Homo sapiens: one gene and its partners. The protein of the gene in region 3 purifies or fractionates together with the protein of the main gene of each other region. This does not show direct contact. Each region holds a gene or a part of one and is shown on either strand. Other genes may lie near its edges. The genes, in order: NCALD, SYN2, DNAAF2, DPYSL5, GPM6A, CALB2 and SNAP91.

The links.
Region 1: the proteins of DNAAF2 (region 3) and NCALD purify together in Homo sapiens (affinity purification with mass spectrometry; 3 studies listed by BioGRID and IntAct, with this or other methods). This does not show direct contact.
Region 2: the proteins of DNAAF2 (region 3) and SYN2 purify together in Homo sapiens (affinity purification with mass spectrometry; 3 studies listed by BioGRID and IntAct, with this or other methods). This does not show direct contact.
Region 4: the proteins of DNAAF2 (region 3) and DPYSL5 purify together in Homo sapiens (affinity purification with mass spectrometry; 3 studies listed by BioGRID and IntAct, with this or other methods). This does not show direct contact.
Region 5: the proteins of DNAAF2 (region 3) and GPM6A purify together in Homo sapiens (affinity purification with mass spectrometry; 3 studies listed by BioGRID and IntAct, with this or other methods). This does not show direct contact.
Region 6: the proteins of DNAAF2 (region 3) and CALB2 purify together in Homo sapiens (affinity purification with mass spectrometry; 3 studies listed by BioGRID and IntAct, with this or other methods). This does not show direct contact.
Region 7: the proteins of DNAAF2 (region 3) and SNAP91 purify together in Homo sapiens (affinity purification with mass spectrometry; 3 studies listed by BioGRID and IntAct, with this or other methods). This does not show direct contact.

Annotation. Positions count from the first base shown.
Region 1 is NC_000008.11:101,780,970-101,784,469, reverse strand, and holds part of NCALD (neurocalcin-delta), read left to right. Parts: intron 1-3,500. UniProt on the Homo sapiens protein: May be involved in the calcium-dependent regulation of rhodopsin phosphorylation. Binds three calcium ions.
Region 2 is NC_000003.12:12,010,888-12,014,387, reverse strand, and holds part of SYN2 (synapsin-2), read right to left. Parts: intron 1-3,500. UniProt on the Homo sapiens protein: Neuronal phosphoprotein that coats synaptic vesicles, binds to the cytoskeleton, and is believed to function in the regulation of neurotransmitter release. May play a role in noradrenaline secretion by sympathetic neurons.
Region 3 is NC_000014.9:49,625,245-49,628,744, reverse strand, and holds part of DNAAF2 (protein kintoun), read left to right. Parts: intron 1-589; coding exon 590-733; intron 734-2,696; coding exon 2,697-3,203; 3' UTR 3,204-3,500. UniProt on the Homo sapiens protein: Required for cytoplasmic pre-assembly of axonemal dyneins, thereby playing a central role in motility in cilia and flagella.
Region 4 is NC_000002.12:26,921,132-26,924,631, forward strand, and holds part of DPYSL5 (dihydropyrimidinase-related protein 5), read left to right. Parts: intron 1-3,500. UniProt on the Homo sapiens protein: Involved in the negative regulation of dendrite outgrowth.
Region 5 is NC_000004.12:175,802,265-175,805,764, reverse strand, and holds part of GPM6A (neuronal membrane glycoprotein M6-a), read left to right. Parts: intron 1-3,500. UniProt on the Homo sapiens protein: Involved in neuronal differentiation, including differentiation and migration of neuronal stem cells. Plays a role in neuronal plasticity and is involved in neurite and filopodia outgrowth, filopodia motility and probably synapse formation.
Region 6 is NC_000016.10:71,361,723-71,365,222, reverse strand, and holds part of CALB2 (calretinin), read right to left. Parts: intron 1-3,500. UniProt on the Homo sapiens protein: Calcium-binding protein involved in calcium homeostasis and signal transduction. It plays a critical role in buffering intracellular calcium levels and modulating calcium-dependent signaling pathways.
Region 7 is NC_000006.12:83,706,302-83,710,334, forward strand, and holds the start of SNAP91 (clathrin coat assembly protein AP180), read right to left. Parts: upstream 2,801-4,033; 5' UTR 2,544-2,800; exon of another isoform or gene 1,939-2,543; intron 1,657-1,938; 5' UTR 1,627-1,656; coding exon 1,497-1,626; intron 1-1,496. UniProt on the Homo sapiens protein: Adaptins are components of the adapter complexes which link clathrin to receptors in coated vesicles. Clathrin-associated protein complexes are believed to interact with the cytoplasmic tails of membrane proteins, leading to their selection and concentration.

The DNA of each region.
Region 1 (3,500 bases), on a different chromosome or scaffold from region 3:
ATTGCCCCTCCCTTTGAACCTAAATGGGCTTATGATTGGTCCAACTGATAGAGTACAGTGGAAATAATGCTAGGTGACTTCCAAGGATAGATCATAAAAAGAATACAATTTTTTTCTCTCTTGCTATTCTTTTTCTTCTTGACATTTTCCCTTAGAATCCAGTCACCATATTGTAGGAAACCCAGACCACATAGAGAGGCCAAGAGTAGGTATTTCAGCCAACATCTCTTGCTAAAGTCTCAGCCGACATCCAGCATCAACTGGCAGGCATGTGAGTGAGCAAGCTGTCAGATGACTCCAGGCCCGGTCATCAGGTCTTCCTTCCCCCTCCTGATGCCAGGGAATCACAGATGCACTATCCCTGCTGAGCTCTGCCCCAGGTTGCAGTTTCATGGACAAAATAAAAGTTGTTACTGTTTTAAGCCCGTAAGATTTGGGGTGTGGGGGGGTAATTTCTTAGGCAATCAGAGTAACTGGGACATTTGGGTAATTAGAAATGAGTGAAATGCCTGTGTAGAGGGCTAAACTTCAGGTACATATGGATTATTAAATAGACTTTTGTGATTTGGCCTAACCTAACCTAATTTCTGGAGGAAAATATATTTCTGTTACCAACCAAATTACAAATGAGCTTTTGGAAATTTGGAACAATGTCCTACAGGTTAATGCTGTTGCTGGTTCTAGGAAAAGATTTGGGCTACACTGAGGCCAGACTGCATGCCTTAGCAAGATCTCGCTCATTGGCCCCCACTGACTGGGACCCTCCCTGCAGGAGAGTGCAGTGTGGATGGCAGTACTCGTATCATCTGTCCTAGACCATCATAGGACATGCTCAGTCCTCCTTGTCCACTTTGTCTCCCTCTCCCATACCTACTCTGTCTAAATTGCTGCCTACTTTTCTATTGTTAGAAACTGCTGTATCTTTGACACTATTTTGGCCCATTTCCTATGCTTCTAGGGCAATGTTTTCTGCTCTACTGGTTTGTAGTAAAGCTAGGGTATTCTCCTTAGCCAGGTAAAATTTAGCTAATTCAACAAAATCTTATGCCTCTTAACAAAATTGCCAAAATGGCAGCTGTCCCATTGGTCTGTGGCTCCATGTGTTGGTCAAATCTAGCATTTGAAATCCTCAGAAATGTGGTCCTTGTGTCCTTACTCAAAGAGGCATCCCTTTCCCTTCTGCTGTAGAGAAATCAATGCCCCAACTCTCTTCTCACTTACTTAAACTTCACCCCATCCTAATAGTCTACTCCTCTTCCCTTAAGAAGACTCTCATTCATTTATTCATTCAGCATTTGTTAACTCTGTACAGTGAGCCCTAGAGTTAAGTGCCTATGAAAATATTCCTTTCATGTCCAAGGACTGCTAAGGTTTCTCCAGCTGTTCCTCATTTGCTTACCATAGACACAGGGCAGATGTGGTGCAATCACCCAGACTTTTCAATAACCGGGATATATCCCATCTCATCCAAGATATTTCAGCTAAGTAGGATACTGCATGAGTAATATAGGACCAGCCAGTCTTTGAAAAGGTAACAGTCTAGTTAGGAAGGCTGGATGGCATCTGCATTTGAGGGCCAGAGCTACGTCTTCCACACTGGCTACAACTTCCCACAGTGCCCAGCATCATGCAGGACATACAGTGCCTCCTCTTTACATCTCTGTTAGGTGATTAGTGAACAGATTAACCCCAGAGGATATATGGCATTGAGATGACTTTGGAGAGGAAGTGAGCTTTGAGTTGGGCCTAAAGGATAGAGAGCGTCTGGCATGAGGAGCAAAAGTGAAAGGATAATCCTTCATTGAGAAGCATGATGAGAACATTCTAGTGACAGAAATAGGACACCTCCCCACCTGGAGTCAAGAACATGGTTGGGAAAAGGAAAAAATATATAATCTATATGGTGGGTCCATGGAGGATCTAGGATTTATCCACTTAAGCTGGATTTGATCTGATAGACACTAGGAAGCTGGGGAAAGCTGGGAGCAGGGAAGTGATGTACATGTTAAGTGGGGTGAGAATATTTTAGTGACTCTGTTTCTTTACACAGCTCATTTAAATCCCTGAATATGTGCTAAGTATTTTTGTCCATTTTTCTCATAGAAAAGTTTTAACTTCTTAAATTTTAAGAAATGTGAATTATCTTTTGCCCTCCGTAGGTGTGAGTAGCCATTTTAACTTTAGCTGGGTTATATCCGTAGGCAAAGCTGTGTAACTTCATAGTTTTAAACATATAACCTATTACTCATCAAAGTCATACTCATATAAGTTCCAAACCAAATGAACAAGTCAAGCCTTTAAAACATTTTCTATAAAACTATACTATAATGAGTATACAATGAAAATTTATATAAATATATATTATATGTATATTTATATATATATAAAACATACAATATATATATACTGAAACCCCTGAGACACTGCACATTATTCTGAAAAATCTTTGAATCATGTCACCAATGAAAAATTAGGTTGTGTTCAGTGAAATTTTAGTTGTAAGTTATGAGTGCATTGCATTACATTACACCTGAAATCTTTGAATACTGATCATCAATATAAGTGTCTGGCAACTATCAGAATGTTCTTAACCAGAGCATGCCATCTTTAAGAAAAATATTATAAATTATACATGCAAAAAAGTGTATATAACATATATGTACAATACAAAGAATAATAGAAAACAAATCCCTGGGTAGCCAACAAAAACACCATCTGTTAATCATTCTAGTGAAGAGTAATGCGTTGATATTGATGATAATTTCACTCTAGTAGCACACAGATTAGTACTGTCCCTAAGGTCCAACACCAGAAGAAATTGAATCGGTGATATGTTTTTTAACTATTTGATCACATAAAGATTTTAAACCAGTTGAGTCATTTATTTCAGTCTCTGATGGTGAATGAAAGGTATGTTTTCCACTTACAAAACATCACTTGCTATTGCTGCTGGCAATTGTGAAGGTTTGTAAATTGGTTTTTGTGTCGAGAGGCCTTTGCCCCAAGGCCATTGCCCATGTTGTGCTCCTTGTCACCTCCCAGCTATTCAGGAGGGAATGGTGAGGGAACCCTTGGTGAGCCCTGAGCTCTTGGTACAAGATCTGTATACTTAAGTTATTTAAAATGAATATTAATAGAAGACTAACATAAGACTATCTGAGTATATTACTAGGACTAGAAAGTCTCCCAGGTTGAATGGGACAACGTGGTACCAACCTTGGTACAAGCCCAACTGCCAGGGGTAGTTAAAGCAAACCATTCTCTCTCTCAGGGTATATATATATATTTTGGTATATTCAGAATATATTTCACAAAATAGAAGCTATTTAACCATTAAAGATGCAATCTTTGGTCCAAATTCCACTTTGCAAAAGAAATTGTCATTAGATCTGTTTGTGCCCACCTTGAAAAATGTTGATCAACTTCCAATTTTTAAAGGTCGATCTGTTACTATTTAGAAATAGAACTCTCTTTCTCCTCAGACTGTCAAAACAGCCTAC
Region 2 (3,500 bases), on a different chromosome or scaffold from region 3:
TTTGAAGACAGTAAGGATGACTTCCAACATATTAACATATACTTCTAATCCTAGGATACTTCCCTCTCTTCATTGTTACCTTCTATCCCTTATCTCATCCTTTGACTCTCTTGCTGCTCAATTCAATATGGCAAAGATTTACTGTCCTCAATCTATGTGTCAAGCCCTATGCTGGATGCTAAGGATGCAAAAAGGAATGAAACATTCAGCCTGTCTGTCCTCAGAGAACCCACTATCTAGTGGGGAAGCAGACACATAAACAGACCATTGTGTTGTGTCCAGAGATAAAGATACTTGCAGTATTGAAAGAGGGCATGGAGGGGGCATAGACGCTCAATACAATCTAGAGAGTTAGAGAAGAGTTTCTGGAAAAGGAAATACTCAGTCTCAAAAGATGAATATGAATTTAATCAAGAAAAGGAAAGGGGAGGAAGGGAAACTGTAGTAGCAGACAGTAAAGACAAGGAGGAGGAATGCAACAATGTGTGTATGGAAGTGCAAACAGTTCAGTATTGCTGGAAAAGGAAGTCTGGACATGGAAATAATTAGAGACGGCAGGAGAAGAAAGCAGGGGTCAAATCACAGGAGGGCCATAAACTACCTATAGGATGTAAGAAGCTCCTGAAAAACTTTAAGCAAAGGAGTAAAAAGGTCAAATTTGCATTTTAAATAGTTCATTCAGGTTACTAAATGGAAATCATGATGAGACTTGCAGAAGTTCTAGGTGAAAGTTAATGAGAACTTGAAATAGGTGACCATCGGTGTCCCACTTAAAATACAGAATAGAAGAGCTGGAATAGGAAGGAAAAACATGGATTTCAATATTGGATCAAACGACTCTTAACCACCCAGATGGAGATGTCCAGCAGGCAGCTGCACATATGTCTAAAGATGAGGACAAAGTTTTGGACTAAAGGTAATGATTAGGGAACTGATTGTACTTAAGAGGTAACTGACACCTTGAGAGTAGATGGACCAGGGAGAATATGCAGTATAAAAAAAGAAGTGGGCAGGAAAAGGGGGCCCGGAGGAACATCTACATTTAATGAGGTAGACAAAGGGAAAGAACAAGAAGAGTGAAAAGAAACTTCGATAAAACAAGTATGAAGAGAACAAAGAGGCTGGGGGTGGTGGCTCATGCCTGTAATCTTGACACTTTGGGAGGCTGAGGCAGGAGGATCACTTGGGGCCAAGACTTCGGGACTAGCCTAGGCAACATAGCAAGATCTTGTCTTTACAAAACTATTTAAAAATTTTAAAAAGGAACAAAGAATGCAGTGTCCTGAAGCCAAGCGACTTCCAAAGGGAAGATATACAGTGTCAAACACATCAGTGAACATTTGACACCTTCCTCTGGATTTAGCAATTAGGTTCCCTAGCAAGAACAGTATCAATATTACAGAGAAGGCAGAAGGCCAGTGTCAGTGGAAAAGGGCAAATAACTGGATAAGTAACGAGTGAGATTTATCTTTCATGTTTGGAAGAGTGATTAGGAAGGTGAGGATGAGTTTTTCATTTGTTACTTTATTTACAAGAATGGAGCAACCCATAGAAAGAGCAATCAGTAGAAAATGAGAATATGAACAGAAGGAAAAAGAGAGATGAAATCTTAAGCAAGGTCATGCAGAAGACAAGAGATGAGTCTTTTTCAACAATAGGCAATGCCTTTATCCTCGGAGAATGAAATAAAGAAAATCAACGTTAAGGTAAGAGAACCAGGACAAGAGCATTCCAAACAAAGGCAGCTGTGCAATAATAGCACCAGGTCTTAAAAGTCCAGCATGTGTGCAGGGAGAGGGTAATCCAGAGTACAGCAAAATTCAGGATTGAGGGGACAGTGAGAAATGAGTCTGAAAAGCTGGAGGCAAACTGTGAATAAGCACAATGAGCAACTACGTGTTAGGGAAGAATGTTAAGAAAGAAGCTAACTTTCTAAGATCCGTGAATGCTTTTGTTTTGCTTAAAAATATTCTGAAAGCAATGTTCTAGGCTTTGATTGGATAGGGAAACAAATACAAGCACTACCTTTTAAAGGCCTTCTGTGTATTTCTCTCTTCCTTCATTTTCCTCTGTAGCCATCCTTCCTTAATTAGTTACAAGTAAAACTGAAGGAGAGCTATTTTAGAATTCACTTATTAAATAAAATTAAGATTTATGTGGTTCTGCCCCTAATTATTAAATATAGCTGAGTTAATGGGTAATGTTTTTGTCATTAAAAAAAAAAACTAAGTTATATTGCCTTTTGAAAAACACAAAAGAAAGCCTTTGATGATATTGTCTTGAGTCGGTGGCCCTCAACTAAATAACAACAACAAAAAGAAGATTCCTCATCCCAGAAGTGTGCAAAATAAACAATCACTTACATAACAAAATTTTGGGAACTCAAAAAAGGAACCAAGGTAGATCAGATACCTGCGGCTGGAAACAGGGAAAGATGTAACACTAACTACTAGTATGGCTCTTTAGCTTTTACAAAATGCTTTTATGGTACCTTATTTTATTTAATTATCACAACAGTGGTATCAGAAATACATAATGTTATCTCCACTTTACAGGTAATGAAACTAATTTTTGTCTGTTATTCTAGAACCTTGAACAGTGCCTGATATATAGTAGACCTCCAGCGGAAATCTGTCAAATAGATGGGAGAAAGGCTCAAGGAGATTATGTAAACCTGATAAGGCCATAAGGCTAACAGTGGAGCCAGATCTCAATTCGAAGTCTTTTGACCCTCAATCCTGTATCTCACATTGTTTCATGCTGCTGAAAAGGAAAGAAGGGCAGGGTGACTGAATCTAATCTATTTTACAATCTTACATGAACTGGTTAAAATTTCTGAAATGCCTGCTGTCAAGCAACAAACACCAAGGCCCATATACATCCTCCTATTCTTAGTCATGCAGCATGGACATCCTTAGAGTTCAGGCACCTGTGGTATCTGCTCACTTTATTCTCTCCACAGGTCACTGCCCTACTAAAAACTACGTCTTCCTGCTGTATTGAAGCAGTGTCTGCAGAACAGAAAAGCCTTCTAGATCATCCTCTCCTTTCTCTAAAGAGATATTGTAGCTTTATGATACCCAATTGCTTCTATGTGGGAAGCTAAAAAAAATTAGGTAACAATTTTTTTCTTATAAAAAAGGCAATTTCTCTTGCAAAAGATTTTCCACAATTCATTTAAATAGTGAGTGCCCCACTGTTTTTGAAATTATTCAATTTACAAAAACTCAATATACACAGCTTTTTCAGGATCATATCCACCACCTAGAGTGAAGTCATGGTTAAATGCAGTAGCCTCAAGACAGAGTTGTATCTTGGTTTTTCTGTGTGTTTAGTGGCACTCCCACTATGTGTACACCTGTAAATCTTGTAAGAACTTCTGCAAGCTTATCAGGTGGCATTGTCATCTTTTGTTTTAGATTCCCACATAGATTTAGCCACAAGTCCCAATTCCCATCATTGATGAGGAAATATACACAGCAGGCATCACAGGATTAGCC
Region 3 (3,500 bases):
GGTTGCTCACACCTGTAATCCCAGCCCTTTGGGAGGCCAGGGCAGGTGGATAGCTTGAGGTCAGGAGTTCAAGACCAGTCTGGCCAACATGGTAAAACCCCATCTCTACCAAAAATACAAAAATTAGTCCGGCATGGTGGCAGTCGCCTGTAATCCCAGCTACTCGGTAGTCTGGGGCAGGAGAATTGCTTGAACCTGGGAGGCGGAGGTTGCAGTGAGCCGAGATTGCACCACTGCACTCCAGCCTGGGCAACAGAGTGAGACTATGTCTCAAAAAAACAAAACAAAAGAAACAAAAAAAGAAAGAAAAATACTAAAAGGTCAGGTTTAATAGACAGAAAAAGTACCAAGACCTCTTTCTTTTAGGTTCTTTTTCTATACGTTTATGTTTGTTCTCAGTACAACTCTTATTGCTCTGTACAATACCAAACTTAAATTTTTCTAAGACAGCTCATAGGAATAACATTAAAATAAACATTTTAAAAAGTGTAACCCTGAACAATGTGAGAATTTTTGTGAGCTGCTTTGAGATACAACTGTTGTCAAGTGGGACTTATTAGGCAGAATATTTTTTCCCTTTTTATTTTAGGAAAGGTTATTTGTCAATGAAGAAAATGTTAATGAGTTTCTTGAAGAGGTCCTGAGCTCTCCATTCAAACAGTCTATGTCCTTGACCCCACCATTAATTGAAGTTCTTCAAGTTACTGATAATAAGATTCAAATTAATGCAAAGGTAAGGAAGTTGATGGGCTCTATAGAGGAGTAATGAAGCACAGAGTTAAAACCTAACAAATTATTGATTTCTTAATATCATAACTTTAAACAAAATTTACATAATGGTTGGGCAGAGTGATGTTAAGAGAAGAAAAGTTTTTCTTTTTTTTTTTTTTGAGATGGAGTCTCCCTCTGTCACCCAGGCTGAAGTGCAGTAGCGCGATCTCATCTCACTGCAACCTCCGCCTCCTGGGTTCAAGCGATTCTCCTGCCTCAGCCTCCCAAGTAGCTGGGACTACAGGAGCATGCTACCATGCCTGGCTAATTTTTTGTATTTTTAGTAGAGATTGGGTGTCACCGTGTTAGCCAGGATGGTCTCGATCTCCTGACCTCATGATCCACCCGCCTCGGCCTCCCAAAGTGCTAGGATTACAGGCATGAGCCACCGCGCCCAGCCAAGAAAAGCCTTTTGTCTGTGTATGTATTATGTGCTAAACACTTTGCTATTCATTTTCACATTATTTAATCCCAAAATAACCCTACAATGAGGAACAAAGAGAAACTAACACTTAGGAAGTTTGAGTACTAGTCCAGGGACATACAATCTTTTTTGACTCTCAAACCATGAGAACTATGTTATACAATTTGTACGTTCTTTCTAATTCAATCTTAATTTTGGTCATTTTTATAGTCTTCAGTATTGAAGATGCAAATGATTTAGTAACTACCACAATCGACAGACATATGTATTAGAAGGGCGGCTCTGAAAAATTAGAGGAATTCAAGAAAATTTAAGAAATTCAACAATGTGCTTATAACTGTTAAATAGTTTTGTAGACCATGTTGAAAAGTATGGATTATTGTTGTGAAAGGATATAATCAGGATATTAGTGCCAGGTTTACATTGTTAAAAAATGACTGGCAGTAGGCTGGGTGCAGTGGCTCACACCTGTAATCCCAGCACTTTGGGAGACCGAGGCAGGCGGATCACCCGAGGTCAGGAGTTCGAGACTAGCCTGGCCAACAGTGAAACCCCGTCTGTACTAAAAATATAAAAATTAGCCGGGCGTCATGGCAGGCACCTGTAATCTCAGCTACTTGGGAGGCTGAAGCAGGAGAATCGCTTGAATCTGGGAGGCAAAGATTGCAGTAAGCCAAGATTGCGCCACTGCACTCCAGCCTGGGCGACAGAGCCAGACTCAATCTCAAAAAAAAAAAAAAAAAAAAAAAAGACTGGCAGCAGACTAGTCGTGATGGCTCATACCTGTAATCCCAGCACTTTGTGGATCATTTGAGGTCAGGAGTTCGACACCAGACTGGGCAACATGGTGAAACCCTGTGTCTACTAAAAATACAAAAATTAGCCGGGCGTGGTGGTGCATGCCTGTAATCCCCTCTACTTGGGAGGCTGAGGCAGAATTGTTTGAACCTGGAGGCAGAGGTTGTAGTCAGCTGAGATTGTGCCAGCCTGGGCGACAGAGCAAGACTCCGTCTCAAAACAAAAAAAGTCATCCTTCAAATGCTGCCTGTCTTTTTCTTTTTTTGACAGGGTCTTACCCTGTCACCCAGGCTGGAGTACAGTGGCACTATCTCGGCCCAGTGCAACCTCCACCTCCCGGGTTCAAGTGATTCTTCTGCCTCAGCCTCTCAAGTAGAGGGGATTATCAGGTGTGCTCCACCACACCCGGCTAATTTTTGTGTTTTTAGTAGAGATGGGGTTTCGCCATGTTGGCCAAGCTGGTCTCGAACTCCTGACCTCAAGTGATCTGCCTGCCTTGGCATCCCAAAGTGCTGGGATTACAGGCATGAGCCACTGTGCCCAGCCTGGAGGATGAATTTTGACAGGAAAGCCTGGATGTATACCTGCAGGTCTGTAAGGGCTATTACCTCACAACTGTTAAAAATTTTATTTCCAGAGGGTAGTACAATTTAATTTTGTATTATTTAAAATAATTATTAATTTGTTGTTTCTCTTGACACAGTTGCAAGAATGTAGTAACTCTGATCAGCTACAAGGAAAGGAGGAAAGAGTAAATGAAGAAAGTCATCTAACTGAAAAGGAATATATAGAACATTGTAACACCCCTACAACTGATTCTGATTCATCTATAGCAGTTAAAGCACTACAAATAGATAGCTTTGGTTTAGTTACATGCTTTCAACAAGAGTCTCTTGATGTTTCTCAAATGATACTTGGAAAATCTCAGCAACCTGAGTCAAAAATGCAATCTGAATTTATAAAAGAAAAAAGTGCTACTTGTTCAAATGAGGAAAAAGATAACTTAAACGAGTCAGTAATAACTGAAGAGAAAGAAACAGATGGAGATCACCTATCTTCATTACTGAACAAAACTACGGTTCACAATATACCTGGATTCGACAGCATAAAAGAAACCAATATGCAGGATGGTAGTGTGCAGGTCATTAAAGATCATGTGACCAATTGTGCATTCAGTTTTCAGAATTCTTTGCTATATGATTTGGATTAATTCTATATAATTTTGGACTTTTAAATATTAAGGTTAAAAAATACCTGTATCTAAAATTGATTCTGTTAACTGTTGTCTTAAAACTAAAGGTATTAAAGTATAAAATTAAAATTTGCAATTTTTTTTAAAAAATTGCAATTTTGATTCTCATGGGGGAAATTGGAGATAATTTTTTTTTTTTTGCCTCTGGAGTTTAAAGTTTCCTTATGGAGATAAGTTTTGTGATTCCTGTAATAGATGTGTATGTTTTCTATTTGAGAGTTAAAACATTTGAGAGTTAAAACATTTAGTTTTAAT
Region 4 (3,500 bases), on a different chromosome or scaffold from region 3:
CCCGGGGATATAGCAAAACCTAACGTAACTAAACAAAAAAAACCCCAATTATTTCATGTTGTCAGGAAGCTTACCTTAAAAGAATAGCTCGGCCTGGCGTGGTGGCTCACGCCTGTAATCCCAGCACTTTGGGAGGTCGAGGTGGATCACCTGAGGTCAGGAGTTCGAGACCAGCCTGACCAACATGGTGAAACCCCGTCTCTAGTGAACATCATTTTTATTGGCTTCCATTAAAGATCTTCTGCAGCGTACTTAACCAACACCATTTTTTGTGTAAAAAGTCATGAGCATTCAGCAATCACATGTTCTTAAACATCATCCTTTTGAAAGCCTCGGGAACACAATTGGGCTGTGCCTTGCTGCCGATTTCTACAAGGCTGTTTTGTGGGGGATGACACTAAAAAGGTCTGTCACATCTGTGATACCACTTTCCTGTGAAAACAGAGCTTGTCAGCATTCATCCTGTGGGTTGGAATGGTACATATTCAAAAAGCCAACTCTATGTATGTCTTGCCTAAGAGGAAACAAGTGCTTGAACATCAGTGTGTGGTGTGGGCTTGCGAGCCTGCAGCTGGGGGAGAGTTTGCTGATCCAGTGAAACTCTTGTTTCGAGGCCTTGGGGTAACAGCGGTAATAATTATTCCAGATACTTATGTGCATGCCCCTCCCAGCTCATAGATGCTCTCACATCCATTGCCACCTGACCCTCTGGGGACCCCTGAGAAGTAAGGTGCAGGTCAGGGGGCACGTGGCTGCTCCTAGATTACAACCAACACGTGGGAAAGTCAAGACCACCTCCTATGCTTCCAACTCCTTCCTGAACTATTTTCAGTTCCTGTCCTTAGACCCAGGCAAAAGGGGCCTCTTCCCAGGGCTCTGGACTTTAGGGTCCTCTTCGGGCCCTCCAACAACTTGTACCCCTGCCCCATAGGTCTGGGGATTGTGTCTACCCAGACCCCACTCACCCATTCCTAAACTACACTCTGGGTCCCTAGAATTCCCTGAGAAACAGCCCTGAGCATTCCAGAGCCTACAAAACCCCGAATCTCTCCTCCTGGGGGACAGACCACCAATGTGTGCATACCAGGCTCAAGGACAGCATTTTTGCAGAAGGTGGACAGAGCTTAGGTCTGCAGGCTGCAGGATCAATTCAGGATAGGCGCGTGTGGGCTGGGGGCAGGCACAGAGGCTGAGGCCAACTATCCCTGAAGTGTAGCTCAGAATTTTAAGGAACTTGAGGATTCTAAGGGCCAGGCCCTTTTGGCCTTTATGAAGATGTATTTGACAGAGTAGGAGGATAGAGTATATTCTGTGTAATGGTTTTTTAGCTTGATCTAACTTTTGAGTGTTTAGAGAATCAGCACATGATCCTCCTTTTCTCCTCTTGCCCTGGGACCCACAGTATGAGGACTGGTCCTGGCTCTTTTATCTCACTGTGCTGTTTCCAGGTTCCTCTTTTCCTATCCAAGCCTGCAGAGGTACTGTGGGAGTGCAAAGGAAAGCAATCTAGAGCCACAGAAAAATGAAACAATTTAGTGTGTAAAGCTCAATATACACCCCCACGTGCACATGTAAAAGCAAGAGATGCATTTCAGGACAAAATAGAGTACAACCACCTGCTGTGAGGATGAATCAGCCTGGCACGATCCAGCAAAATCGGAAATAGAAGCCTGCTAGTAAAGCTACAATCTGCACTGCTCTCCTTCTCCCGGTTCCTCTGCCGCCCCCATCACAGCTCCTGCAGGTGCCACAGAACTACCACCCTCTGTTGGTTGCTTTAAGCTGTGCAAGCAGTCAAACCACTGAGTTCCCCAGGACGACTGGGAACATTCTCGCTGGCCCAGCCTGCGTCATGGAACATCAAGGTTGTGAGAGTTTTCATTTTAATTGCTGTTGGGCCACTGAGCTAATTTTTTTTCAGTCCCTTATTCCCCAGCAATATTTTTCATTTGTGATCAAGGATTTAACTGAATAGAGAAGCATGAAACCATTAAGACAATTTCATGGAGCTCTTTTTCTCCCCTACAGAAAACAGATAAACACCTAAATTCTGGCTGGGTGCAGTGGTTCATGCCTGCAGTCCCAGCACTTTGCGAGGCCAAGGTGGGAGGATCACTTGAGCCCAGGAGTTTGAGGCTGCAGTGTGCTATGATTGCACCACTGTACTCCAGCCTGGGCAACAGAGTGAGACCCAGTCTCAAACAAAAACAAAAACCTAAGTTCTGAGTAACTAAACACACATGTTAGGACAACACTTTTACCACATCTGTTCCATAAGCAATGTTTTACTTAACCTTCACAACTACCCAACAAGGAAGCCACCCTATTGTGTAGGTAAAGACTTTGCATCCAGAGAAGTTAAGTAACCTGGCAGAGGTTATTCCAACCATGAGGGAGCAGAGCAGGGACTTGAACGTGGAGCCGTGAAGCACTGTAAGGACTCAAACCATTTCTCACCAGAAAAAGAGTCACTTTGTCTTAGAGCCCTCACAAAGACTCTCATGTTATGGGACTCTCAATTATTTAATTTAATTAATTTATTTATTTTGAGACAGTTTCACCCTTGTTGCCCAGGCTGGAGTGCAATGCCGCATTCTTGGCTCACTGCGACCTCCACCTCCCAGGTTCAAGCAATTCTCCTGCCTCAGCCTCCCAAGTAGTTGTGATTACAGGCACCCACCATCACACCCAGCTAATTTCTGTATTTTTGTAGAGACGGGGCTTCACCATGTTGGCCAGGCTCATCTTGAACTCTTGACCTCAAGTGATCCACCCACCTCAGCCTCCCAAAGTACTAGGATTACAGGTGTGAGCCACTGCACCCACTCTCACTTATTTTAATTCTATTTTAAGTTTTGTTTGGGAACAACACATTAGCCTGAAATAGCCTTTGATCGATGCTAGTTTTGGAACTTCACAGAAGTCCCCTGATGAAATTCACTTTTAAAAAGTTGAGTGGGGGAATCTCTAATACAGATTTAGTCATTTTTCCTGGGGGTTCACTCTATGATTGCGAGTGAGGCTTTTTAACAATTTCTTTTTAAAGTGGTATCTTGCGGAGTTGTGAATAGGATCCGTTTTCACTGATAAATCACACATGCATCTAAAAAATGCCTGTCTCAAACAAGATAGATGAAAATGAAGCCCCTATGCTTAGAAAAACTGAAGACAAAGACCCTGAGGTTGAAGATGCGTGCAAAATGTTTGAACAAAATTGCTTCATGAAATTTGAGAGCATAAAACAAAACAATATATCCAAATTAACATTTTCTATATCGTGGTTCAAATATACGTGTGTAACTAAGTAAATGATATAAACAGACATTTGATTATGCCATCAATATTATGTTATTATATGATACAACACTATATTATGTTATATATTACATGCAGACATTTGATCATGTTATCTATAGAGTCAATTGGCTAAAAATCGTTTGGGGAGAGAATCTCCTCATTGGGAAGATAGGCCTTAGGTCGGGTGACCCACGATGTGGTTT
Region 5 (3,500 bases), on a different chromosome or scaffold from region 3:
TCAGAGAAAAAAGGAAGAATGACTGTCGGCTTTTAAATGATGTGTATTAAGAGATGTCAACATGTTAGAACATTAACTGCTGTATATATCCAGATTGATTTCCCAAAGAAAGAAAGACACTTTCTTACATTGTTTCAATTGTTTAATGTTTTTGGACTTAAATTTTTATCATATGAGAAATGATGAGTTTTACTTTACTTACCTCCATCAAAGAGAGGAATTGGATGAAATCTATCCCTGAGAATGATGCTAGAAACATAAAAGAGATTGTTCATATTGTCTCCTAAAAGGGGATGGTCATGCTTTTTCTTGGTTATCAAGTAAAAGTGAGGCAATTAAAGTATTTTGCTAATTAGCATTCTTCATTGATTTATAATAGAACTTTCAATGTCTGGGAAACTATTTTCTACATTTTTATGGTTGCAATTAATATTCCCCATTAGAAAGGTTATTTGAATGGTGAATTACCTATTCTTTCTTAACAAAAATAAAATATGGGAGAAAAACTTTACACCTGTATTTATTCCGATTGTTGTTTTATGCAACAAAGTTTAGTTAATAATTCAAATAAAGAACTAGTACACGGCCAAATTACCTTCCCCCCAAAACTTGACAGCTTTTTTTTTTGAAAAAAAAATTTTTTGAGATTCTTCTACACATTTCCTGTGTTGGTGGATATCCACTTTCATTTTGTTTTTGTTTTGTTTTGTTTTTGTTTTTTTGAGATGGAGTCTCGCTCATCGCCCAGGCTGGAGTGCAGTGGGCTATCTTGGCTCACTGCAAGCTCGACCTCCCAGGTTCACGCCATTCTCCTGCCTCAGCCTCCCGAATAGCTGGGACTACAGGCGCCCGCCACCACACCCAGCTAATTTTTTGTGTTTTTAGTAGAGACAGCATTTCACTGTGTTAGCCAGGATGGTCTCGATCTCCTGACCTCGTGATCCGCCCGCCTCTGCCTCCCAAAGTGCTGGGATTACAGGCGTGAGCCACCGAGCCCGGCCCACTTTCATTTTTAACAGCCTATACCATATCAGTTTTTCTGTTCAGTTTCGTTATTGAACATCAGAAACATAATTAAGTACTTTTACTAGCATGATTTATTTGTCAAGGAAAATATTAATAATAATAGCTAATATTTAATAATCCAGGCACTGTTCTAAGCATTTCATATGCAGTGTCTAATGTCAATATATCTTAACACTAGTTAATAAATATTGATTACAGCTTTTTAATAAATATCAAATGTTCTTTGACTTTACGGTCACACTATTTAGTCAAGGGCCATTGGGTTCAAACTCTACAGGAAACTAAGAGAAAACCTCACACAAACATCCAGAGAAAAAAAGAATTGTCATGTAACAAAATGAGGTAGTCTTCCATTTCAGTTCCAAGAAAGATTATGAGGTGGGCAGAAGGGAGAATGAGCCAAATGATTTCTCCATTTTTCTAGTTAAAAATTTATTTTTCCCACAATAAGGGCATTTAAATTCAAATTTTTGGAACCACAGACTGTACATTTGAGTGGCAGTAAGGAATTATATTTATTTTTCTTCAAACACCTTTCAATATTTCAATATTCAATAATAGAATTCATTATTAAAATAAGGATTGAGCAATGTTTGAACAATGGAACTCTTAGATATGACACTGAATGTGGTTTGTCAATTTAAAACCAACCATAGGCTTTGAGAATCTCTGTTTTAAATAGTACCAATGTATTACCAAAGCCAGATTCATTTAGTGGTTTATTGTCTCAGAGACGTTATTTTAGTTTTTCATCAAGTTAAAAAAAAAAACCATTTTACAGTGAAAAGAATGCTTTGAATATTAGTCAGAATAATTGAACTTAAAGCATTTTAAATCTCTGCTCAACCTTTCACAGTAGAAAGTTGTAATTGAGTCATAAGATCTAGAATTCAGAAACCACCCACTCAGATTGTCTCCATGAATTTTAAATATGTATAAGGGCCAGGAGTTTTTCAATTGACCATCATAATGAGTGGCCAATTGACTTTTGGTTTCCCAATCAGATGACCTGTGTTAAAGCCCTGGCTCCTTTTCTCCACCTTCATTTTCTCTGTAACTTAATCTGTGTTATTCAACCATATTTTTTTCAAAATCTCCATTTTGAGAATTAATTTTCTCTACCATTATCTTTGGGTTTAGGTCTGTTTAATGTGAGTTAGATGTAATAAAGACTAGGTAAAAGCGCCTATTACAATTCCTGGAACATACTAGGAGTTGAGTAAATGCAGATTCCTTCTCCATGTTTCCTTTCCTCTCATCTTAACACACTGTGCCCATTTAAAAAGGTGACCAAGCAATTTTCCTTGAGTCAGAGAGTCAGAATTAAAGGACTAATAACTTTTTCGAATTGTTGTAACAGTTATTTCTTAAATGTTTGTCACTTACTATATGGCATATCTTACTGTTTTTTCTTATGTATGTGTTATGCTGTAGCTCCATTCTCAAAGTACAAATTCCTGAAGGGTAAAGTTTTTATCGTTTGTTCATGAACCCAACCTGCAAAGTGCTCTGAATACAAACCCATTCATAGCTGATGATGATGATGATGATGATGATGATGATGATGATGATGAAACGAGAACAGGAGGAGAAAGAGAAGGAAGAGGGGAGGGGAAGAAAAAGAAGAGGATAAAGAGGAAGAAGAAGAGGTCAATTGTGCAGACTAAAGAAAGAATAAAACACAATTTTTCCCCTAAATAGAGACAGATCTAACAGAGCAGCTAAACCTGGCTTGGGAGAATGCAGCAAGGACTCCATTTTATGTCATTAGATTTGAATTAAAAATAATTCTTTTATTCTTTGACCTGAAATATATTCAGTAGTTTGGTAGCAGCTTTCTTGAAAATGAATAGATTTTCTTTTTTTATTATTAAAGAGCCCACACATATTTTTAGCATTGTGATTCTGGCAATGAAGTCAAATACATTAAACTGTCAGATTCAGCAAATGGTTACTGAAACTTGGAAAATTATGTCATAATATTTTATAATACGCTGTTAAAATTTAACAAAGTAGTTTACAAATTTGCTGACACTAGGCTTACTGTGTTCATTCATAAGTATTGATCAAAGAAAACAAAATTACATAAGAAATAACAGTTTGAAATCATTGAGGACAGTTTAATAAGATAAGACCTTTTCTAGGATATGTTTAGTAATGTTCAAGGTAATGAATTTAAAAAATAGCATGCAATGAGTAATCAATTTTCTTTTGCCTTCTTTTACGCTTTATTTTAGTTTTTGTATTTTAATTGGTATATAGTCTCACACAATTGGCTTATATTTTAGATGGGATCAAGACAGTATCTGAAAACAGGGCATTTGAGCTCTGGTCAATGGTATCGGAAGAGTATTTCCATCTAACCTTTCAATGCTCATCATATTCTCTCTACAATTTTGGTGTACTAAGTTTTTTGATGTATTAATCACTAATTTGTGTTTTGAGATGAACTTGTGATACCATTATTTGGTGGA
Region 6 (3,500 bases), on a different chromosome or scaffold from region 3:
AAGGCATCCAGGAGGCCAGGCCGCTTGTCGGTCTATCTGGAGTTCAGATTTATCGAAGGCAAACAGTCCTCTAACCTCCATCTGGAGCACCCTCTGGGACAGTCAAATCCTACCCTTTGGGGTAAGAAATTGGCTTCCCCAGGCTCTGCCCCAGTATTAATCCTGCTTTGCTTGGTGCGCACCATTCCCAAAAAGCTTTCCACTTCCCACCTCATCTGTTCTTTACGACCCTGCCAGGTAAGCAGTTATCAACCCCATCTTAGAAAGGAGGAATCGGAGGGGGAAGGAGATTCAGCCACAGCTGACAGAGGTCCTGGCCTCCTTCTATTTGTCCCAGGGACAATGTCTGTCCATATCTGCATTTGTCCTGGCTTCTCTCTCTGACACACACACACACGCTTCTTCCAGTGGCTTCTGGAAAAAAGAATAAGCCCCAGAGTGAAGAGCTACCAGCCACCAGCTGAATGTTTGGGCACTTGAATTTCAATCTATGTTTCTGGGCTGTGCTGCTTTGGACCCGTGGTTCTGGAGCTGGGCTGGGTCCCCTGAACCTGTGGACATCTGGCAGCCTAATGCTGGGCTGAGTCCCAGGCATGAGGGAGGCCAGAAGGATAGGGCAGATTGGGTGAGAGGGGAGATAGTGAAGAGCCAACAAGGACAGAGGGAGGGCTGAAGCCAGAGGCCCCAGATGGGCCGGCTTGGCAAAGGAGGGCCTGGGATGCAATCCGCCGGCAGGCTGGGGCTGGAGAGGCACTGTTCTTGAAGAGCCTCAGGCCTGCTCTATTAATTCTAGCTCCTTTGGTTTTGGAATTGATTTCCCTGAGGGGTCTCCTTAGCCCTGGAAACCTCCCTCAGGGGCTTGGCTGGTAAAGCTGCTGAAGTCTGGAGGGGAATATACAAGCTGAGCAGGGCAGGGACAGCCGGCCTGGCTGTCAATATCAAGGCAATGCAGGGCTGGCATCTTGTTTGTGAAACGGGTCCCTTAGGCGGGCTCCCCCGGGGAGCCCCAGCTCTTCACAGACCAGCTGCTCCCCGCTGCCGGCTGGTGCAATCAGAGTCTGAGAAGCAGAGCCATAGCAGGCAAGAGCCCACCTGGAGGTACCCAGCGTAGAGCTGCTGCACGTGGACACTCCACAACCCAAGGACGCTGTTAGTGAAAAAACTGGGGAGTTGGGGGAGGGAGCAGAGGCAGGGGTGGGGGACATTTTCCAGGGCCTACCCCAGATGGGTCAGGCGGCTGTTCCCTGAGAGCCTCATATCCTGACATCACGCCACGCCCAGCTGAGAGGTATACAGACCCCCAGAGGTTCACTAACAGGGTTCAGAGAAAGCGCTCCTCTGACAACTTTAATCTTGGTTCCCAGTGTCGGACCCTGTTGATTTTAATGGGCCAAGACCCAATCGTTTTGATAAATCCTATGATTACCTTATAGCATTGTAACTGTTGTGTCATTTATATAAACACTTAATATACATCACATATTTTGTGACCCTATTTCAGCATGTGTTTCACTTTGGTATTGCAGGACCTCTCATGCAGCCGCCCAGGGCCAGTTGCCCAGGTTCCCGTTCATCTCTGAGAGGTGCTGCTGTTCTAAATTTCCTCCCCATTCCCTAAACCAGGGACAAACAAATGAGCAGTGACCCGTGCCCTGGAAGAGCCTGCCTGGGCACTGCAGTCTGGCCCTGAGTGGTCCTCAGTGTTGTGTGGGCTTGGAGAAGACTTCTGCCAGGTCACTGGGTTTCAGAGGGCGAGGATGGGAGCCTGCGTAGAGCCATCCTCAGCCCTTTGTGGCCTCTGTTGTTATTTTCAAAATCCTCAGGGTCCACATAGATAAGGAACAGGACTCAGTCCCTGTGAGAGGCTTTGAGCACCCCCTACGTCACCTGGGCCACTTGGAGGTGGACAGAAGCCCAGAAGAGTATAGGCAGATCCCCCCACCTGGAGACATATACATATTTCTTACAAGGGAAGAAAAGGTGTCTATCACATTGTTTTCTTCTTATATCTTTATTTATTTAGTTAGTTATTTTTTTAAAGATAGGGTCTGGCTCTGTTGCCCAGGCTGGAGTGCAGTGGTGCAATCATAGCTCACTGCAGGCTTGGACTACCTGGGCTCAAGCCATCTTCCTGCCTCAGCCTCTCAAGTAGCTGGGACTACAGGCGTGCGCCACCACACCTGCTTAATTTTTAAATTTGTAGTAGGGGGAGGGGGGGTCTCACTGTATTGCCCAAGCTGGTCTCGAACTCCTGGCTTCAAGTGATCTTCCTGCCTTGGCCTCCCAAGGTGCTGGGATTATAGGCCTGAGCCACTGTGCCTGGCCTCCCTTCTTATATCTTTATTGTTTTGCTGACTACACAGGAAATAGATGCTCTTGTAAAATTTTCAAGTGCTATGGAAATTAACTTAGAAAGTAAAAGAAAATCCCCTTTCATTTGGCTCATCCACTCTTCAGAGAGAGCCGCTATTATTCAGTTGTATTTTTCTAAATATCCTGCAACATACATATATCATTCATAATAAAAACGGGCTTATAATAGTGTTCAGCTACAGTTTTAAACAATATCTTAATAATACATCTTGGACATTTTTCCATGTCACTACAAAAGCTTCACTTCGCTCTATCATACTCCATCATAGGGATGACCATATTTATTTTTCTGTCCCCCAGTGAAGCACATTCTCCCCTCCACCCACTGAAATTGTTAGTATTTCCGAAGAACACTGTAATAGACATGTTTGTTCATATAACTTTCTGCGCACATACGAGTATATCTATGTAGGCTAGATTCTTGGAAGGGAGTAGGATGTTCACCTTGGCCCCATGAATGTCTGCTTGCCCCTGGAAGAGAACTCATCTTATCTTTACATTCTTAGTTGCTTTCAAAGGGGTAGCAAAAGCTAAGGCATTTCTCTTTGGAGCCACAACTTTGCTGCTCGCAGATGGTCAGTAAAATAGGAGCCCGGTGGCCTGTCTAATCAGAACCATAAATAAAGGACAGTGTGAACTCTGAACTGGGCATCCCTCAGCCACCTGGATCCTTTAGAGGGGGAAAGGTCCTGATACAGAAGTGTCCAGGAAGCAACAGAGCAATGGGCTCAGATACGTAAGGCCACGTCAGGGCCACTCGGAGCATGGAGGTGATGTTCGGAAGAGCCCTAGACCCCACCAGGGTCACTGGGTGGGCTTGGCTGTCATCTTCCCTACCTCAGCCTTTGAGAGACAACATTGGAACCCTCCCAAACGCATGCTCTTGGCTGACTGCTGAGGCAGAGTTGGTGGAGTGGTATTGCGGACTAGGAGACCAGATTCCTGGTTCCCCCTTCACCTCTTCCTGCTTTGCTGTGTGATCTTGTGAAAAGAATTTTGCCTCTTTGAGTCCTAGTTTCTCACTCTCCAAACATACACTTCTTCCTTTCTCTACCACAAAGCTAATAAGAATTTTGAAAATAATCCAACTCTTTAGGGTGATGGTGGCTTTTTCTGTTTTGGAATGG
Region 7 (4,033 bases), on a different chromosome or scaffold from region 3:
GTTGGGGAAACTGATGGGAAAATGGCTAAATGATTCAGCATGCTGCAGCAAAGTGATCTGGTCACAAATTTACAATTTCTACTTCTCTTAGGTGCCCTGGCCCTGGTGGCCTCTTTCATCCTGTACTGCATATATAACATATAATGCTGTAATCAATAAATTTAGTTAAACATTCCCTTGGGAAAGGCATAATGGTACTTTCCCCTCCGATGAGCTTCTAGAAACAAAATTATTCAATTCTATGAGACAACAGGTTCACAAGGCTGGACAACTCTTACAATGTCCAGTTGTAAGCTTCATCAAGCTTCGCTTATGCAGATAATAGGGCTAGAGTGAATTCTGACACTGGTGCCATTTTCTTAGCTGCACAAAGGAAATAGCAGGAAAAAGACCCAAGACCAAAAAAACCCAGAAGATGGGCAAAGGAAGCCAGCTGAGGAAATGGCTGTGGCCATACCTGTGTCTCTCATGCCAACATTCACCTTTACCAAAAACATCACAATAGAACAGAAGATCCTAAGCAGGTCAAGAGAACTAAATAGCAACTGCTGAACATACACTCATATAGCCTGACTTATGAGAAACCTCACCACCCAAAGCAGGTGAAAGCCTTTTTCTTTTCTAAGTGCCTCTGTTTATCCTTCGGTGACAAAAGATTTACTGTTAATTAAGGTATTTCAGAAATATATAGATTCCAGAGTAGAATAAAGCCTTTTCCATCAAATAACCAGTTACAAAAATAATATTAAGAATTAAACGGTTTCATCTAAAATTGCACCATCTCAGATGCTGGGGAAGTACATCCATTTTGTGACCATAGCATAGTCATCTCACCCAGCATTTTCTGAGAATGGGACAAAGTGTGCCAGGATGTGTAAAATGAAATTGCCATAGCTATGAAGTCCAATTTCCTCATTCAGTACCTTGAATTTATTTCAGTTTGGTATGGTAACATACCTCACACACACACACACACACCCATACTCACAAAAACAATCCTCAGGAGCAACACTTAAAAAGATTATACTACCTTAGAACTATCTGAAATGTATTTAGGAAAGAACTAGGGTGACAAGTTTGACCTTCCATAAATTCATCTTTTTTTTTTTTGACTGTGCAACCTCTAATTTCCTCTAATTTGGAGAAGGGAGGGTGGGTGGAGAAAGAAAAAAAGGTGAAAAACATCTAATTCAGTGTGTACAATCTCTCTCTTGTGTGTGTGTATATACATATGCGTGTGTGTGTGTGTGTGTGTGTGTATTTTTCCCCCTCCACCAAGACCTTGGAGGTCAATAAGAGGAAAAAATGGCTCACAAGACAAGGTTTCATGGCTAACCCAAGGGAACACCTTCACAGCTGAAGAATTTCAGCTCAGGGGCAACCTGGCTGGGAGTATCAGAGGCCACAGCATTATGGACCAAGAGCGCAGGCCGCACCACCAGCATCCCAGGCGCCTCTGCCGTGCGCATGTCCCTCTTATATAAAGAGATGCTTACAGTCCAGGTGCTTTTTCTTGGGGCCCATTACTTCATGAGTAGTGGCTTTGCAGACCGCTCTTGCTACAGCAGAGCCTGTAACGCTGTACTGAGCGGCGGCGATCCGATCCGTGAGCGTTTGGCCCGACATCTTCTGTGGTCGCGTCTACCGCCTCCTCTTCTGCAGGAAACAAGGGGAGACGGTCCGGCTTTAATCCGCAGACCCTACCCTCCAAGCACCCAGGCCTTGCCTCCTCCAGCCGCGCGGCGGCTCTCTCCTCCTCCATCCCCACCCTGGCACCACCTCTCGGAGCCAGCAACGCGCCAAGCCCCGCTCCTGCGATGCGGTCCAGGGAGTCTTGGCCGTGAGTAGGGCCGTCACGGAACCCCAGCGTGGGCTCCAGTCGCAGCATCGTGACACCGTCCCCATTCTCCCCCGGCCCCCACATAGGGCCAGACTCACCCCCTGGGGACCCCCCTGTCAATCAGCACTTTCCCCGCAACCTGACCCGCGGGTGCTGGACTAGCCACAACGTGCGTTGGGGTTATTCCCTGGGCGCCGCACCCACCGGTGCCCATCTCCCACCTCAGCAGACTTTCCTCCTAGCAGCCCGCAGGCTTCGGGGAATGCATCGGATACCCAAGCCCTGGCTGCCTCCCTCCTCCTCCTCGCGCTGCTGCAGCAAAGGGCTCGTCCTCCCTCAGTCGCGAAGGAGATTATCCTAGCGTTGCGCCATGTTATGCCCTCGCCTCCCCTTCCTTCCTCGCCGCCGGCTCCAAAGCCTCGCCGAGGCCCATCGCCCGGGCCCCTTCCCCCCGGTTCCAAATCCCTGCCGCAGGGGCCGCCCGGGAGCTCTGCGGAGGCGCCGGAGTCTTGGGGCGCCTCACCCTTCCTGGCTTTGGAGAGGAGCCGGGCTGACAGCGAAGCCCAGTCCCCCGCCCGCCCTGGAGCGCTCCGCGGAGCTGTCACTCGGCCGCTGCCCTTCTCCGCACCCTGGGATTATCCTCTGCGGATCCCCGCGAGACCCTGGCGCGGGGAGGGGGCCGAGTACGGCCGCGGGTACTCACCCCGCCCCTGAGCGGCGCCGCCCGCCGCAGGATGAGCGGAGCCCGGGCCGCCGAGGGAAGCCGCGCCGGTGGATGTGTGCGACCGCGCGTAGCCCCGGTGCCCCCGGGCGCAAAGTCTCCAGCCCTGGCCGGGCCCCGCTCCTCAGCTCCGCGGTCCCGGCGCCCACCGCCCCTGGCCCCTGGCCCCAGAAGCCAGTACCCGCCCGCCGCCGCCTCTTCTGCCAGCGCCGCCGCGTCTCTCTAGCGCTCCGAGCTGCGTCCCCATCCCCGCCCCCACCTCAGCTGTGGCTCCTCCGACGAGTCAGGTGACGGCGGCGGACAAACCCGGACGAGCCCTCGGCGGAGCGCCTCGCGGCCCCCTCCCAGCTACTCACACACACCGCCCCCCGGGGCCGGGAGCTTAAAGGCGAGGGGGCGCCTCGCGCAAGCATCCCCGGCAAGCCGGCGGGGAGAAGAAGGAGGCGGGGAGGCCGACACCCACCCAGCCAGCGGCTCTCCGCTGGGCGCCGGGCCGCCCCTCCGCTGCTGGCGCCGCACCCGGCACGCACTGGGCTCGCGCACCACGCACACCTGCCCGCCGACTGCGGGGGGAGCCCTGGGCGTTGGGGGCGTTGGCCAAGACGGGCGAGTGGGCTTCTCGGGTTCTACTCTGTGAAGGCCAAGGCAAGGGCGTCGTCGCGCGCTGCCTGGCGGAGCCCAGCCCCTTCCCCACACTGTCGCTGACACGCCCGCCTGTCAAAGGCTCCGAGGCCCAGATGAGCAGGGCGATTTTAAATGTCAGATCCTGCCGGCCATCCGCGACCGTCACCTGTGCGTCTTCAGCTCCTCAGGCTCCTCCGCTTGTCTCAGTTACAACTGGGAGCCCGGGTGGGCAGGTAATTCTAGCCACTTTAGTCTTAAACGGATACTGAGGTCTGCTGAAGGGAGAATAATTAACACAGCCGTTAATCGAGTCCCAGATTACCTTCGACAGTAATCATTTGCGTGCATAAAGAAAACCCTTTGTACCCTTAAGAAGTAATTTCTGCCAATTAAATATAGTGTTGGAACGTCCGTCAATTGTATGTCAAGTGTATATTCGAATAGTAAGCAGGAATTTCTAAACAGGGATGTGGAGTTGGTTAATAGCTTCACGTGTTGACATTTTCAAAGGTTGTTATTTATGTTCACCTTTTTTTTTAATTCTCACAGTAGCATGAAGATCAAAACTATATTTGTGAGCTTTCCTGGCATTTTTTCTCCTTGCTTCGGGTGGCTTCTGCTCGGCCTTGAAGCCATATATCGATACCTATCGATCTCAACGTTTTGTTATATATTCCTCTCTTTCACCTGGTACAGTGTTCAGTATGCAGTCATGATTTCCTAACTACTGAGACTGATTCTAGGACTAATTGGAAGCTTAATGACTAAAGAGAGACAGCTTAAGAGCACTATTGTCTCAAGTACTAGTCTTACCATATTTACAAGGGAAATAAAAACGCAATTCTATT